Regions from separate parts of the Homo sapiens genome. Here region 2 is linked to region 1. The links come from fine-mapping of genetic effects on gene expression. Tissue or cell type: testis. Region 1 holds a variant in brackets; the other region holds the start of a gene. All regions are shown on one strand. Distances are from middle to middle.

Evidence for each region. PIP is the estimated chance that this variant, and not a neighbour inherited with it, causes the effect.
Region 2: TBX20 starts here. The variant in region 1 is the best candidate, but not a certain one, in a credible set for the expression of TBX20 in testis (GTEx, PIP 0.88).

Annotation. Positions count from the first base shown.
Region 1 is chr7:35,228,369-35,231,281 of GRCh38, forward strand. All of the region lies in intron 6 of TBX20 (T-box transcription factor 20), which reads right to left. Among named protein-coding and RNA genes, the nearest start is that of TBX20, 24 kb to the right of the region's middle. RefSeq lists an enhancer at 534-1,400. The variant T/C (reference allele first, on the strand shown) is at 1,645.
Region 2 is chr7:35,252,377-35,255,289 of GRCh38, forward strand. It overlaps TBX20 (T-box transcription factor 20), which reads right to left and starts at 1,724. Exons shown (of 8, transcript NM_001077653.2): 1 at 1,118-1,724. The coding sequence starts at 1,244. RefSeq lists an enhancer at 645-1,221.

The DNA.
Region 1 (2,913 bases):
TTAAAGGAAGTAAATGTTCATACGTGCATAAGAAAGTATCTGAAAGAATATATAATGGGGTTTTGCCAGAGGTCATCTCTAAGGAAATGGGGTTTAACTGCTTTTTTATGCTTTTTCTTACTTGTCCGTATTTTCTGATTTTTTGGCAATGCACACAAACTCTTTTAGTAAAAAGAAAAAAAATTAATAAAAGAAACTTAATTTTGAATAAAACATAGATAACTCCTCCCAGTTATTTTTCTTTTCTCAGAAGGAACACTGTGCCTTTGTGTACTGGACAAAGTGAACCGCATGCCCCCAGAAAAGAAACATAAAATGCCAACTGAATGACTGTCTAAAGCTTGTTATTATACGGAACCAGCCAATAATTGTTTCCCCAATCTGAGAAACTAGACATTAGATTATACAAAGATATCCCTTTGGGCTTTTGGTTTGCTTCTCGGTTGACCACAGTAGGTATATTACAAAGCAGTAATGAAAACACTTTCTATTTTTGCCAGTGAGGTGGGTTTTCTTTTAGAAATGAGGAAGACGATGTCCCTGAAGAGTAAGGCTACACACAAAGTGAGACATTCAAGTACCTCAATGGGAGCTAGTAAAATTAGAGCAAGAAAACTAAAACACCTTTAAGAGTATCTCAAAAGCTCGTGTAGCTGTAGAAGGATTAAAACTGTGAATTTAGAGGTACAGGCAAACAGATCCAATCCCAAAGGCATTTTTGTTTGGGTGTCCCACACATTAAGCTGTAAATCTGAAACAGGAAACTTGAAATCATTAAGGTCACATATTTATAACATCATATTCAATTAGGTTAGAAAAGTGCAATATCTGTCATCATGTCATAAAAATATGTGTTTTTCTCTCAGATCTCTTATAAAGAAAAGCTCCCTATATTGTTAAGGATAGGGCTGTTTTCAATCAGTTACAAGGAGCAATTCAATTACTAGATGGTTTAGTGCAGTAACTGACTCCAGACTAATTTAATTTCTTTAGGTCTCTAAAGATCAATTGATCTGATTTGTCCCATCCCCAAAGGCTGTTTATGAAAAATTCAGACTTAAATATCTGGAAATGAAATCCAAAACCTCGGCCAATTTCACACTACTTAGGTCATCTTGCAAACTTTCAGCTAGTCATGTAAGAGTGCTGTCTTTGCCCTCAGACCATTGAAAGCTACTTAGCTTCATGTACATGTGAGTGCTCCCACATCAGGATGCTTATCCAATAAGTGGAAAATGTGGCCACATGCATTATCAAATCTGCCGTTGTAAAGAGCAGTCAGACTGAGTACCTCCTATCTTGTAAACCAATGTGCAACTACAAGGCTATTTTTACTCTAGGAGTAGTTTATTAAGACTATGAAACATAGAGTTACATGGGATAAAAGTTGTTAGATGAAATGCTCATATAACAAGATGAAGAACTTGTAATTATTTTACATTTTTAGATTTATAAAATGCTGTCATAAATGCCAGCTTATTTGATTCTCAGAATAAACCTCTGAGGTGAGCAGGGTTATTTTTTCCATTTTCTAGATGAGCGTACAGACTCAGAAGTCTGGTGACTTCTCCAGGATCACTCACCCAGGAAAAGGCAGAGGTGAGACTCTAAGCCCTAACTTTTTTTTTCTCCCAATATATCACG[T/C]GTACCCCCATGGTCTGAGACAGAAAATACGACACACACTATAAAAACGGATCACTATCACCCCACTGCATCATTGTCTCCATTCTTACTTAATACCTGAATAAAACTGAGAAAAAGTTCACTTATAACAATCCCAACTACATAAACCCGGTCTGCAGCAGGGCTTCTGGCCCTCAGAAACAGGAAATAAAGTCATGCCTAAATGAAGTTGCCTTTTGCAAGTGGACTCCTTTGTGGTCCATACTGCTGGTACCACATTCTCAGTGACTTGTATCCCACCTAATTTGAGTTACCACTTGCCTTCTCTCTGGACTTTGCAATGGATTTTCAATCACAAGCTCAAGTTTCTTTTCCTGATCTCAACACTTCCAACCAACTTGTCAAGCTCTCCAACTATTTAATCTTTCTTTTCTGCTCAAATCCCATAGTTCCTGGCCAATGTTCAGCCTCTCCTGCTTGCTCCTCTGCTTCCCCACTGAGCCTCTAAGTCTGTTCCCCTAAATCAAACCTCCCCCTCACATTCTGCCATTTGGGAAGGCTTAGGAAGGCTGAGACAGAGGTTGTTAAAATATGTAATTATCTTTTAATTTGAGTTGCCAAGATAGATTAGACAGAAGTGCTGAGGTCAGGAGATGTGGCTATATAGGTAACAAAGAGTGCAGCAGAAATGTGCAGCAGTTAGTAGGGAAATTACACAGATGTAGAGATAAGAAAATCAGTGGTTCTGGTGGCTAGGGAACTTCCCTGGTCAATTAAGACATTGGACCACATAAAAGAATTAGTGTGTTTAAGAAGTACAAATAATCAATTAGGTTTAAAAATCTTCTCTTTGAAAAACAATTTTTGACATTCATACTGGGCAAAATATGTATCTCCATATAGTCATTACTCATCACCTCAATGGTCTCAAACTGCATGAACCATTTTAATTGAGTAAAAAGTAGGGTAAGTTACAGGCACATGATTTCACTTGTCTTCTTAGAGGTCCTGAGGCCTGCCTGATGTCTCTCCTATTAAATATAAGCAGTCTACTACATTGGTAAAATTATGTGACCTTGAATTAAATTACATCTCCTTGTTTCAAAATTCCCAACTACCCTTACACTCTTTGTGTTAGCAAATATATCTACTTGGGAAGGTAAAAGGCTATCACGGTTCTGTTTCTCTATAGACTGCCACTCATTGAGACACGAAGCTTAAGAATGTCAAGAGGACTAAGTCTTTAATAACAACAAAGCCCTATTTTTTATAGTAGAATAAATGTCCTGA
Region 2 (2,913 bases), 24 kb after region 1:
CAGATTTTTTTTTTTTTTTGACATTCTGTTTTCTACAGATCTACTAGTTTCTTTTTCCTTGGTTTCAAGTAGCTACAGGAATTTTACTTCTCTCATCTTTAAGCCCAAACACCTTATTTTTGATCTCTAACACTTCCTTTTTTTCATGTTATCATTATTTTGGATGTGATATGTTAAGTGTGGGAAGGACAGAGAGAAGAAAGGAAAAATTGGGGAGGGTTAAAAAAGAAAAATTAACTTAAGTTTGCTATCTGATTTTCACATTGTAGTGATACCAGACGATCAGGCTGTGTAACAATTATTTCCTGGGGATCCACGAGGCAATGATGAGAACACTTCTTTTTCCCTCAGTTGTAAAGAGATTCTTAAATATTTATCTTGGGGTGGTTCTTTTCCATGTAATTCACTAGTGTTAAGAAGAACATAATCCCTGTTCTCCCTTTACTCCTAGCCTAGTGTCTTCTATAAATGGTAAAGGTTGTTAAACAAACAACATAACTAAAAGTAGAGGAATTTGAGAAATGGTTACTGGTTAGTGTTTTTGCCAACCTCAACTGAAAATGACGACAGTTATAAAATGATGTCTTGGTGATAAGTCTAGAGCTTCAGTGAATAAAATGGTTCGTGTAGGGAGAACTGGCTTATTCTGCTTTACAGTGGTTTCAAAGAGCTTGCTCTGTTTTGTCTATTCAAGTCAGAGGAAAACCAAAATTAAACTGGTTTCTTATGAAGTCCTTTAGCGTCTCCGTTTCAAACGCACAAGCAGGTGTTACATGCACAGTAAATCCTGTTGAGCCTTAAAAGGGGTTTTATTATTATTTTTCCATGAATGTTTTTAACCCAACAAACATACACACACACCATATGTCTGATCTGATATATGGATTCTAGACAACTTAGGAGACCGACGGGCCCAGATATAAGATGCACATTCACAGCATTCAACAGACTGAAGCCTCCAAAGAAAACTTGGACCCAAAAGAAAAAGATCTCCCACCCGCGATGTATGGCTCATGGCTTGAGCATCAGACGTTGCTGCGAGCCGCCTGCAGCCAGGGGCACAGACGGATGCGCAGCATCCCCAGTCCTCGGCGGACAGCCGGGTAGCCCAACTTACCCAGGGGTTTGATTGTGTTCTCCGTCGCCTCCTTCTCCTTAGAGCCGCCGCTCGACATGAGCGCGGCAATGGAGAAGGCGTTGGCCCGAGAGGAGAGTTGGGGCTTGGGGGACGCCGTGAACTCCATGGTCCCCAGCACGCGGTCCTGGCCAGGGACGGGGTCGTCCGAACTGCCGTCCAGATTCCCCAAGGGAGACAAAGACCCGAAACACAGCTCAAAGTTTCCGAGAGCAGTCACAGCGGGGCCAGGGACTCCAGAAGTGTCAGCTCCAACGACTCCAGAGCTGCACACTGGCCTCTATTCCCCACCGCAAAGCCCCAGAGCCGCAGAGACTTCGAAGGCAGCCGGAGAGGAGAGGGCCCACCGAGCACTACGGCGGGTGCGCACGCCCCGGGGCGCTCGGCAGGACGACAGTCTGCACAGCCCGAAGGCGGAAACGAGCATCAACTGCACAAAGTCCTGGGGTCCTGGAGCATCCCCTCCGCGTCCTTCCTCCCTCTGGGGCTGGGGACAGCCGGGATGTCCCAGGCTGAGGTGGCCACCAGCCGAGCGCGGCTGCTAGGACGCTGGCGTGGGGAGCGCGGCGCGGAACTACGGACAGTGAGCCCTGGCGCTCGCTGCCCTGCGCCTTAATTTGCTGGCGGCGGCGATCCCGGAGGCCCGCAGCCAGTCAGCGCCGTCTCACGTCACCGCTTCCTGATTCCGCCGCCGGGGGCGGGGCCGCGGGCCGGGCGCGGAGGGCGCGCCCAGGGTGCGGCGCCCGCGTGGCCTGTCGCCCCGGCTGTTCGGTACCCCAGCACAGGTTCAGGGAAAAGGGTGCCACCACTAGGCTGACGCAGCAGCCATGGACATCCCCACCTGGTCTCACAGCCCCGGGCGGGAGGGCGGTGCGCGCTGTCGGGAGAGGACACATCACCGCGGCCTAACGCCCGAGATCCGGGCATGGCCCAGTTGGGGAAGCTATGACCAGACCAGTGGAAGCCTCGGGAGTTCTCGCTTTTTCCATTCTTTTTCTTACCTGCGCTCAAAGTTCCAAAAGAAAGTAGGGAAGCGCTCAGTAGAATCCGGCGCCTCTGAGCCGGCGCCAACTGGCCAGGTCCATACTCGGGGCAGATCCCAGGGCTGGGACTCTCATTCGATGGTCCCAAATTTGATCTCTTTGACAGTGGGGCTGAGCAAATGCAGCCCTGAAAAAGATAAGCTTAGCGAGAGCTGCGGGCATTTGGCAAAGGATGCTGCTCTCAGAACCGTGGCTTCTGCTCCTCACCAGTGCGTCTCTAGCCTGGGGCTCCTATTTTCCCTAGAGGGACCCTGGAAAATGGGACGGCTGCCGAAGAGAAGGCGAAGGTCAGGGCGCGGAGCTCTACGGTAACCACGCGACGCGTAGTGGGAGAGTGCGAACCTTATGGTAGCGCCCGGACTAAGCGGACACAGACCCCTCTGGTTTTACAAAGGCGGCTGTGACGAGGACTTCCCACGGCCTTGTTGGAGGGCGTCCTGTTAGCCCTGCTCAGCCTGAATAACTCAAATTCTCCGAATTCGCAGGGTAATCCGCTTCGCTTGGAGCCGTGTAAACTCAGGCTGACATACACACTCAAGCTGTATATGTAAATATTTGTTCTCTTTTCCAGCCAGTCGGTCTGGCTATTAGAAGCCTCTTCGTGGGTCTTAAAATTAAAATAATAATAATAATTTTTAAAACTCCAACTTTTCACTGCACCACCCCCTACTCCTGAAATAAATTTGTGAGGGAAAACGGCAAGTTAAAATAGCTGTCGAAAACGTTTGTGTGAAC